Linked DNA regions of Homo sapiens. The protein of the gene in region 1 binds, or shares a complex with, the protein of each later gene. Each region holds a gene or a part of one and is shown in the gene's direction. Other genes may lie near its edges.

Region 1 (7,293 bases):
ATCTGGTGGTAGAGCCAATCTTGAGATTCTCCTATAAAGAAGTGATTACTCTGTCCATGAAATAGATTTTCCATCACCCTCAAATTTATTTTTGCCCCTCAGAGGTGGAGGAGGAGAGCACTGAACTGTAATGTTTATACCCAGAAGCTGGTTTCTGGCTTCTGACCTTTATACTGTGGGGGATGGGACCTACTCCCTGTAGTCAGCGACAGAAAGTTTCAGGTATCTGTTGACTTTAGGTCCTTGGGCAGCAAAAAACTGTGCTCCCTAAAAATGTGTTTCTAGTTTCAGAGCTTCTGCTGAGAGTCAGGGTTATGAGGGCTGGCGGTGTACTTTGCTTTTCCAGAACCAGCAAGATTTCCCTGGAGCGAAGAAAGCCTAGGTTCATATTCCATACTCAGTAGTTATTTGCCACATGACTGCAAGCTACCTAGTGAACTCTTGGGAACTTCACTTTCCTCCTGAGTGAAATAAGATAAATAGCTCTCTTTCCAGGCTCAGTGAGGACTAACTTAGATACTGTACAAAGATAATTTGACATGTAATAGACAATCAGTAGATTTAGCTCTTATGTTGATCTTGCAAACCCTTCAAAGCTTTGGCTCAGTATATAAGTACAAACCATAGATGAATTGATTTTCTGCTGGTTATCCTAGAGCAAGACTCAGCAAACTTTTTTTTTTACACGGCACCGATAGTAAACATTTTAGTCTTCACAAACCATAGGGTCTCTGGTACAACTACTCAACTCTGCCATTCTAGTGCAAAAGTAAACAAATGAGTTTGGCTGTAGTTTTTTGTTTTTGTGTTTCTTTTTTTTTTTTTTTTTTTTTGGACGGTGTCTCGCTCTCTTGCCAGGCTGGAGTGCAATGGCATGGTCTTGGCTCACTGCAACCTCCGCCTCCTGGGTCAAGCGATTCTCCTGCCTCAGCCTCTTGAGTAGCTGGGACTACAGGCGCATGCCACCACTACCAGCTAATTTTTGTATTTTTAGTAGAGATGGGGTTTCACCATGTTGGCCAGAATGGTCTCGATCTCTTGACCTCGTGATCCTCCCGCCTCAGCCTCCCAAAAATGCTGGGATTACAGGCATGAGCCACCACACCTGGCCCGATTTGGGCTATGTTTTAACAAAACTCTTTGTAAAACAGGTAGTTTGTAGTGTGCCAATCCATGTTCCAGAGCATCATCATTTTTTTTTCCAAAACAATTTTTTTCTTTTAAATTAAATGGAGCCATGATCTCACTGTATTGCCCAGGCTAGTCTCAAACTCCTGGGTTTAAGTGATTTTCCTGCCTCAGCCTCCTAAGTAGCTGGGATTACAGGCACCTGCCACCATGCCTGGCTAATTTTTTTTCTATTTTTAGTAGAGAAACAGGTTTTGCCATGTTGGCCAGACTGGTCTCAAACTTGTGACCTCAGGTGATCTACCTGCCTCAGCCTCCCAAAGTGTTGAGATTATAGGCATGAGCCACATTGCCCAGCCTAAAAAAACTTTTTAATAGAGGAGAGCATCATCTCAGACTGTAATGTGGGGAGGAATGACTTGGGTGTCTTGTTAAAATGAGGATTCTGATTCCGGACTTCTGGGAAGGGACCTGAGATTCTGCATTTCTGACAGGCTCTCAGGTGATGCTCATATTGTTGGGCTGAGGACCACATTTTAAAGACAAGATTTTGTAATACTTACTACAAATCCTTCTTTCCAGAATCTGTTATTGTTGCTGTCTGTGAATAGTCAGGAAACAAGATGAAAAAATCAGAGATGTTTAGAAGAAAGGAAAGACTGACCATTTTCTTTAAGACAGATTTTGCAGATTTGGCCTTAATAAAAGGAGTGGTTTACTAGTCACAAAGGTCAAACAGTCTGCACTGGAAAATCGAGCTGCTTAATTCTTGGTCTTCGTTTCCTCTGTAGAGCACAGTGACAATCCAGACTCAGCGGTGTTTAGAGACTTGGAAAGAGTTTGAGAAGCCACTTAGCCACTTTATTTTCAGGTTTGTAGTTTTGCCTCCCGTTCTCTCCCCAGTAGGTTAAAAATGGGGAGTGGCAGGGCCCGCTCCACATCCACAGAGTCAGTTGAGGCAGGTGTCTGGGAGCTGCACTTTCCACAAGGTCCCCAGATTCTTCCTATGCACACTAAAGTTGAAAAAAATTGAGTTAGCTAATACCCTTTTGGTATAGATTAGGGAACTGGAGCCCTTCTGGAGCAGAGATTTTGCCTGTGGTTTTCTAGCAAGATATATCACTACACCCAGGATTCCAACTGAGGTAATAGACTTCAAATATTTTGAAGTGCTCCATGAAAAATGTAGCCATTGATTTTTGAAGGGAAACAGGAGAGACAAATGGAAGAAATTAATAATCCAATAGCTAACCTTTTACCCAACGGAACCTAGTACTAGGCTCTAATTTCCTTAATGTGTTAGTTATCTATTGCTCCTTAGTAATTATCCCAAAACTTTGTAGTATAAAACAACAAATATATTTATAGTAACTCACACAGTTTCTGAGAGTCAGGAATTTGGGAACAGCTTGGCCTAGTGGCTCCAGCTCAGAGGCTCTCATAAAGCTGCAGTGAGATGTTGGCTGGAGCTGCATTCATCTGAAGGCTTGACTGGAGCTGGAGAATCCACTTCCAACATGTCTCACTCACATGCTTGTTAGCTCGAGGGTTCAATCTCTCACTTTGTGGACCTCTCCTTGTGGTTGCTGGAATTTCTTTGTAATTTAGTAGCTGACTTCCTCTAGTGCAAGTGACCCCAGAAATGGAGCAAGACAGAAGTCACAGTGTCCTTTATGACATTGTGATAGCTTCAGAAGCCACATAACCTCACTTCAAGCCATATTCTATAAGACACACAGACCAACCCGAGACATGTGGAATGGGATTACTCAAGGGCATAAATACCAGAGGCAGAGATCATTGAGGCCATCTTGGATGCTGGCTAACCGTACTTAAAATCCTGTGTTCATCCCATTCACAAATCTAGAGAGGGACTCTTACCCTCAATTTTCAGATGTGGAAACTAAGGCACAGAGAAGTAACATATTGATGATCATGCAACTAGTAGTGCCAGAGCTGGTATCTGAAGCCATATTTATCTGATTTCAGATGGTCTCATTTCCAGAGATTTTAAAATAAAGTATTGGTATAAGTAATCCTTGTGTGAAAGCAAAGCAAAAGATCCAGAAGTTCAAACCAGCCATGTCAATTATCCATTGACTCAAAAATAAGTTTTAAGCACCTACTCTGTCCAGGCACTGTTCCAAGTATTAGGAATCCAGTAGTGAACTGAACAAAACCTCTGTCTTCTGGGAGCTTACCTTCAGACCCTTGATCTGTTAGATATCCTAGAGACTGTAGAATGTAGAGCTTACATGAAGACTAGGAGCCGGGGATCCCTTCCTGCCTGGCCTCCAACCCACTGGGGAACCCAGGCAATCCTTTCTTTCCCTGGACCCAGATGCTGCCTCTGAGAATGCGGCCCTTGGATGAAAGCAGAATCACCTGGGGTAATGAGTAGACATAACAGATTCCCCAGCCCAGACCTGCTGACCAGAACCTGTAGTTTTTGCAAGCTGTAGGTGACTCTAGTGCAGAAAATAATTTTGTGGTTCATAAGTGGGCCCACCAGATCAGCATTGCTCAGAGTATGGGGGCCCATCCCTGTCAGAGTTACTGGTGGCCCTGAGACAAAGCTCATAGCTCAAGAATCAGTGTTTTGAAGGTAGGACTGGGAAAAAGCATTTTAAACTAGATCTCCAGGTGATTCTATTTACTATGTGCCAGACACTGCTAAAGGATTTATAGGGATGATTCCATTGAATACAACTTGTGAGGTAGAAACTCTTAGCTACTCTATAGTTGAAGAGACGGGCTCAGAAACAGGCTTCTGATGAGTCTGATGCCAACCAGGTCCTGCCCAGTCTCTCTGTCTTCTGTCTTGACCCTGAGTGGGCCTGTCTGCTGGCACTGTGTGGGGGTCACTCTACAGGGCTCGGGTCATGGTCCCCCTGTGTTTGTTTCAGAAGCACGAGTTCTCTGTGGACATGACCTGTGGAGGCTGTGCTGAAGCTGTCTCTCGGGTCCTCAATAAGCTTGGAGGTGAGTGAGTGGCCCTGAGTTGGGTGCACTTATGCCATGTTCAGATGCATGCAGATGTTGCAGGAGAGACTTAGGGTTAAGCTGATCATAACAGTAAAACTAAAATATATTGAGTACTTAGCACGTGCCAACTACTCTTGTTATTTTCTTAGTGGCTTATGTGAATCACATCATTTAATCCTCACCACGGCCATTTCAGATAGTTTTTTTTTTACTAGCTCCATGTTAAACAGGAGACAGCTGAAGTTCAGAAACATTAAATAACTTATCTGGGATCACATGGTCAGTAAATGGCAGAGCTGGGATTTAGCCAAATTAACTAGTACTGCCAGGAGTAGCTCTGGAGCCATGGCAGTACTAGTTCATATGTTGGTCATCTCCAGTGTGTACTGCATGACACATCTGAGTGTCATTTTCTATTGAATTTTTTTTTTTTTTTTTTTTTTTGAGACAGAGTTTCGCTCTTCTTGCTCAGCCTGGAGTGCAATGGTGCAATCTCGGCTTGTTGCAACCTCCGCCTCCCAGGTTCAAGCAATTCTCTTGCCTCAGCCTTCCAAGTAGCTGGGATTACAGGCATGCACCACCACGCCTGGCTCATTTTGTATTTTCAGTACAGACGGGGTTTCTCCATGTTGGTCAGGCTGGTCTCGAACCCCTGACCTCAGGTGATCTGCCCGCCTCGGCCTCCCAAAGTGCTGGGATTACAGGCGCGAGCCACCCTACGCAGCCTCTATTAAGGTTTTTTAAATGGGGCTGGGCACGGTGGCTCACACCTGTGATCCCAGCATTTCGGAAGGCTGAGGCGGGCAGATTGCCTGAGCTCAGGAGTTCCCGAGACCAGCCTGGGCAACATGGTAAAATGCCATCTCTACAAAAAATACCAAAAAAATTAGCCAGGCATGGTGTTACATGCCTGTACTCACAGCTAATTTAGGGGGCTGAGGTGGGAAGATCGCTTGAGCCTGGGAGGTTAAGGCCACAGTGAGCCTAGATCGTGCCACTGCACTGCAGTGGGGGCAACAGAGCAAGACCCTGTCTCCAAAAAAAAAAAAAAAAAAAGAAAGAAAAAAAGGAAAGATTTAAAAAAAGGTAAAAATTTTTAAAATTTTGTCTTTTTCTGTTTCTTTACTTCAAAAAAAAAAATTTAAATTAATTTTGAATCACTCACATGCAGATTTTTTTTTTTTTTTTTTTGAGATGAAGTCTCACTCTGTTTGTTGCCCAGGCTGGAGTGCAGTGGCATGATCTCAGCTCATTGCAGCCTCTGCCTCCTGGGTTCAGGCGATTTCCGGTGAATTTTTGTACTTTTCATAGATATGGATTTCACCATGTTGGCCAGGCTGGTCTTGAACTCTTGACCTCAAGTAATCCGCCTGCTTTGGTCTCCCAAAGTGCTAGGGTTACAGGCATGAGCCACCGCACCTGGCCACATGCAGATATTCTTAAAGCACCTCTTTTGAACAATCAGTCTCATCCAGCCTTGTCATTTTACAGCTGGGGAAACTGAGGCCCAGAGAGGACTGGGATCTGGTCCTGGGACTCAGTGAGGTAATAACTGAGTTGTGATCAGAGTTTTGGCAATGCCAGTGCTCAGTCAGCCTTCTAAGATTTTTTCTTTTCTTTTTCTTCCACATGAACTATCACACAATCTTCTAAAATTTTCTTTTTTAAAACCCTAAATAATAATGACATTAAGTTTTCAAATGGCTTCCACATGGACGTGATCTCATTAGCAGTCCTCTGAGCTGTACTTTCCATCTTTGGAATGGGGATGTCGATGCCAGTGTCCAGGAGGTTAAGTGACTTGCCCGTAGTCCCGCAGCAAGTCAGTGGCTGGCCTCTAGCCCTGTAAACTGGGATCTTAATCTGAAAGAAACTGAAACAGTGGAAAGAACCTAGCTGCTGACTTGTCATGTGACTGTGGGCCCTTCTTTCTCGGGCCTGGGTTTCCCCAGCTGTGGTATGGGAATGTATATCTTGTATGTCTGTATCAGCTTTTGCTGTTGATGCTTTTTTTTTTCTTTTTCTTTTTTTTTTTTTTTGGAGATGGAGTTTGCTCTTTCACCCAGGCTAGAGTGGAGTGAAGTGGCATGATCTCTGCTCACTGCAACCTGCTCCACTCTGCCCCGGGTTCAAGCGATTCTCCTGCCTCAGCCTCCCGAGTAGCTGGGATTATAGGTGCCCGCCACCACGCCTGGCTAATTTTTTTTTTTTTTCTGAGGCAGAATTTCGCTCTTGTTGCCCAGGCTAGAGTGCAATGGCGTGATCTCAGCCCACCGCAACCTCCACCTCCCAGGTTCAAGCGATTCTCCTGCCTCAGCCTCCTGAGTATCTGGGATTACAGGCTCAGGCCACCATGCCCGGCTAATTTTGTATTTTTAGTAGAGACGGGGTTTCTCTATCTTGGCCAGGCTGGTCTCAAACTCCTGACCTTAGGTGACCTGCCCACCTTGGTCCCCCAAAGTGCTGGGATTACAGGCGTGAGCCACCGTGCCCAGCCTGTTGATGCTTTAAAAATGAAACTGTACAGGAGCTCCTCAAATACAAAGCAGCAGGCTCTGGATGAAGTGGGGATGGGCCTAATTTCGTTTGACAGCTCAAAGACATCTACCCATCCCAGGAACTTCATCCAGGCTGGAGTGCAGTGGCGCGGTCTTGGCTCACTGCAGCCTCAACTTCCCAGGCTCAAGCCATCCTCCCACCTCAGCCTCCTGAGTAGCTGGGACTACAGGACCACACCCGGCTATTTTTTTGTTTTTGTTTTTGTTTTTTGTAGAGACAGGGTCTTGCTTTGTTATGCAGGCTGGGAAACCATATGTTTTGTTTGTTTGTTTGTTTGTTTTGAGAGGGAGTCTCACTCTGTCTCCCAGGCTGGAGTGCAGTGGCATGATCTTGGCTCACTGCAACCTCTGCCTCCCAGGTTCAAGTGATTCTCCTGCCCCAGCCTCCCGAGAAGCTGGGATTACAGGCACATGCCACACACTGAGCTAATTTTTGTATTTTTAGTAGAGATGGGGTTTCACCACGTTAGCCAGGCTGGTCTTGAACTTCTGACCTCAAGTGATCCACTCGCCTCAGCCTCCCAAAGTGCTGGGATTACAGACATGAGCCACCACGCCTGGCCAACCATATGATTTTTAAGGCCCCTTGCTGGAAGATCTGCCTTTAAGCTTCGGCAGGTTT
Region 2 (4,496 bases), on another chromosome or scaffold:
AGTGAACCTGACAAGCACTCACTCCTGGTGGGAGACTTCAGGGAAGATGATGACACTGCATTATAAAAGGCCATGGAGAGTGCTGCCAGTTTAACTTGTCATGCACTGACACAGCATTCATGATGTTACCTTCACTTTTCAAAATATTGTAGAAGGATTTTTCTCATGCTCTTATATTAGGGATTCTATTTGAGTTGCGTTTATCTGTTGGCAAAAATATCTTTTTCAAGGCATCAGCTCTGAACCTAGCTTTATTTAAACTGAATTTCCAGTATATTTTTGTTTTCACTAACAACAGATAAGGTAGAGCAGTGAGGTTTACAACAAGCCCTACAATTAGAGATTGCTGAACTGCTGCTAAAGTGATTTTTTTTTTATTTGACCAAAAAAAAAAAGGCCCAAGAAGAAGAAAATGAAAAATTTGAAGATTTGAGAGCATGAAGATATTCATGCTTTTGAACTCAAAATATTGAAGATACTCTCAAGCCTGTATCCCTGCCCCACTGGGGAGCAATGACTTTCAAAGCACTGTGTATAAAACATCTAGTTTTAGAAGGGAAACAGTTGAAACTGTTTAAAAATAGATGTGCCTTATTTATTGCAGGCTTTCTTTCCCCCATTCTCCCTGCATCCTTGTCCTTGCAGGTGCTTTTTTAGATGCTCCAATATGTCTTCTTTTGTTATTTTCTTTCGAGCTAACCAAGTTTAGGTGGTTTTTCATTGATTAAAAATAACTGACAACTGTTCTAATATTTTGCTCCTTTTTAAATTTTGTAGCTCAAAAGACCTTAAAGGTCTGTAGGGTTCCCTGCCTCCCATCTTTCCACTGTTGTAAAAAGTATATCAAATTATTCCTTCAAGTTTCCTAGCTCTGTGCTCAGTTTCAGTTCACTCCTGCCAAGTTGGACTCTAAGTTATTCTTCATGTAGTCTGCTGATCTCAGTCTGGAAACTTAACATTATGAGCCTTTTCTGCTCAAAAAATTTTCAAAGATTAAAACTATTATACATATACAGGTCATATAAAATTACCTGGATTCACTAAATTTGTTTGTTGTTGTTGTTGTTGTTGTTGTTGTTGTTGAGACAGAGTCTTGTTTTGCAGCCCAGGCTGGAGTGCAGTGGCACCATCTTGGCTCACTGCAACCTCTGCCTACCGGATTCAAGGAATTCTCCCTGCCTCAGCCTCCTGAGTAGCTAGGATTACAGGTGCCTGCCACCACACCCGGCTAATTTTCATATTTTTCAGTAGAGACGGGGTTTCGCCATGTTGGCTAGCCTGGTCTTAAACTCCTAACCTCAGGTGATCCACCCGCCTTGGCCTCCCAAAGTGCTGGGATTACAGGTGTGAGCCTCCATGCCCAGCCTAAATTTGTATTTTTTGAATTGAGTATAATCACTTTGCTAGTATATATAATTTAATAGATTTTATTTATCTTTTAGTGTTTCAGATAACCTCTCAAAAAGACTTTAAAATAATGCTATTACACAAAGCTGCATTTACCAAAAAATACAGTAAAATCATAATACAGAAACTAAAATTTCCCTAGGTTATGACGCTTTTTAGCTAAATATATACTCTTCTCTAGTTTAAAACATTTGAACTTGCCTAGTTAGTGTGGTTGGCAAATTTAGGAGCTTGTTCCCATTGCCAAATGGATTTAGAAATTCCCTTGTGAGTGCCTGGTAGCTAATACACTGGTCAGAGATCTGGTACTTGTAAGACTATTTAAATTTCTTTGTTAGTTGCAAGATGGATTTCATATGCAGAATATGTAAATGAAGAGGACTCATAAGTAAATTCCTAACATTTTGTTCCCATTACCAGAAGCAAAGCTGCTGCTAACCCAACATCTGGCACATAGGATTTGTACTCGGTAAATGTTAGTTCTTTTCTCCCCTTGAGGTCAGTAATAAATACAAAAAAATCATTTTTCTAGAGCAGAGTCTTAAAATCAGGTGGGGGTAGGGGATGGAGTTCTTCCTTTCCTACCCCTTTTCTCTTTTATCCTTTCATATATACACATGCAAAGTTTACAACCTTATTCCATGCTGTCTTTCAGATTTAGAAAAGATCTAATTTCTGTCTCAGCTGTCTTAAAGAGAGAACTGAAGCTTTTGATGAAGGTGCTATTAATCTAGAAAGGCAAACCCATTTCACTGAAATATCAATGGGTTTGCATATCTAGGCCCTTTTTTTAGACCAATGCCTATGCCATCCTCCATGCTTTCAGTTTGAGTTTTATTATTTATTATTTTAATTCCAGTGGCCCATCTTATAATACAACTTGTTTCTTCTAGAAGACAGAGCTGATAGGGTAAATGTTGAAAAAAGAAGCATGCCTCCTTCTCCCTCCCACCCACCTCAAGCAGTTGAACACAGCCAGTTATTCTTCCATTATTATGTGTACCTTGGAGTCATCCTCTTGGTCTTGTATTCATATTGTGGGACAGTGGGAATAGCAGCTTGTAGTATTGAAATAATCAAAGAGATAATTTCAGCTCTTACAACAAGAACAGAAAACATGCTAATTAGAAAAAGTCCTGCTTTAAGTAATATGTAGCCACATTTGAATCCTCTACCACAAGTCTTTTTTGCAATCTTGAACTTTCATTAGCTTCAAAGAGAAGCTGTATTTACAGGAGAAAGAGGTGATTATGGAGGGAATCAAAAATACTGCTTTCAGTTAGTAGCTAGCTTTAAGTCAGGAGTTAGTAATGAGAAATTTTATAAATGTGTATTTCTGTGTATTCACATACATATATATATACACACATATATATGTACATACACATACATACATATTACCATACTGAAGGGAAATGGATTTATATTTGAATTTGATATTTGAATATTTGAAGTTCTCTATTTATATTTCATTTATCACTCTTCTGTATTCACTCAGCAACCATGCCCTTAGTCTGAAGATAACAAGGATACTTTAATATCCAGTGCCGGTTCAGACTCACCTATGTGGCACCTTAAACTTAAATATCCAAAGATGCCTTTTGAATTTCAAAGATTAAAACACAGCTAGAGTAGTAGTATTGTAGTCTCAAGATGTATGGTGTGTCATTTGTGAAAATAGAAACGTTATTTTTCCTAGTTTAGTATCAACATTTTAGAATGTCAAATTTGATGCCTTGTGAACAAGTAATTTTATATTGTGCTTTAATTTTTTAAAAAGTATTCTTTATTCATATGTATAGAATGCTTAAAATAGCACTGTAGACAAGATGTTTCCAAAACTTTAAGTGCGCATATCTTTTCTGTATACAGCTTAAAATCAAAAATGTATGTTAAGAGAATTTTTTCTATTACTTATGGATCATGCTTTAAAATGATTTTTCTTGATATTTATTTTACTCCATTTTGTTTTTTTCTCTGGGTGAGGCATCTGGTTACTGGTTATTTTAAAAAGAATAAAGACATTCCTGGAATCACTCCTTTTGGGTTTTTGTTTGTTTTGTTTCTTTTCTACATTTTTAAGTATTATTTTACAAAATAGAAAAAATATAGATTCATGCCAAATTATTACCTATTTTTACACTAACTTTCTGCAGTCCCTCCATCTGGTATGAGTAACCAGATAGAGCACAAAGCATGAGTTCTTGTTCTTCAGTTAAAAGAGCTTCTTTCACAGTGTTGATAACAAATGCCTTTTGTAGCCAAAACCAGGCGTCTCAACCTTACGTTTTTAGTTAAAGAAATGTTTAGCTAAACGTTGTTGAACATTGATTGTTTGGTACCGAAAACAGCAGTGGACGATGTTGTGCAATATCCATCTACTGTAGTTAAGATATTCAGTAGTTTGTTTTTCATAAGCATGTAATTGATCATATTTCTGCCAAGGATGTGCCTTCAACTTTATAATTATAGTGTTGTAAAATATTTTTGTCTGTCTCTTTTGTTAAATCATCCAACCCCCTCTATCAGCAGTTCTGAACTACCTTTGTTATATTTTTATTTTTTTCAACTTTTCATCTATGATGGAGGTGGATTATAGGCATCACTACACTTTCGGTTAGGATGGGAGGGAAGAAATCTATTTTCCTTCGGACTCCACTACACCTGCCATATCATTCAGTGAGGATGAGAAATAAAGGAAGGAATATTATTGTTCTGCTTTCCTTTGTAGTCTCTAATACATTCTTGATAGAATGTCTACTCCAAATGAGCTAAACAGAGAAAAGAGATTTTCTTGCCATTGGGGAGCCCTATACAGAGTGTTTGAAGTTCCCACCCAAGATACATTCCCATACCCGAACACTCCTTTTTGAGTTAAGGAAACCATTGTAAACTTGTGAGGAAAAACTAATTTTCATTTCCCCCCAAATCCTTGGGGTTACTCAGGGTGAGGAGATAGGATGGGAAATGGCAAAATAAGAGTAAAATCCCCAAGGCATCCACTCAGCTTGCCAGCCTCCCTTTCTTATTGGTATCCTGACCTCAGAGAAGGATGTGTACTGATGGCTACCTCCCAGGTGAACCTTCAA

What was found.
Region 2: the proteins of ATOX1 (region 1) and ATP7A are in contact, whole or in part, in an NMR structure (PDB 2K1R), measured with the Homo sapiens proteins. Residues at the interface, in NP_004036.1 of Homo sapiens: Thr11 (codon at 4,059), Cys12 (codon at 4,062), Gly13 (codon at 4,065), Gly14 (codon at 4,068), Cys15 (codon at 4,071), Ala18 (codon at 4,080), Arg21 (codon at 4,089), Val22 (codon at 4,092), Lys25 (codon at 4,101), Lys57, Thr58, Gly59, Lys60; in NP_000043.4 of Homo sapiens: Cys19, Asn20, Ser21, Cys22, Trp24, Thr25, Gln29, Asp67, Asp68, Met69, Gly70, Phe71, Asp72.

The regions. Positions count from the first base shown.
Region 1 is NC_000005.10:151,748,521-151,755,813, reverse strand, and holds part of ATOX1 (copper transport protein ATOX1), read left to right. Parts: intron 1-1,691; exon of another isoform or gene 1,692-2,141; intron 2,142-2,504; exon of another isoform or gene 2,505-2,734; intron 2,735-4,034; coding exon 4,035-4,110; intron 4,111-7,293. UniProt on the Homo sapiens protein: Binds and deliver cytosolic copper to the copper ATPase proteins. May be important in cellular antioxidant defense.
Region 2 is NC_000023.11:78,046,505-78,051,000, forward strand, and holds the end of ATP7A (copper-transporting ATPase 1), read left to right. Parts: coding exon 1-66; 3' UTR 67-3,891; downstream 3,892-4,496. UniProt on the Homo sapiens protein: ATP-driven copper (Cu(+)) ion pump that plays an important role in intracellular copper ion homeostasis.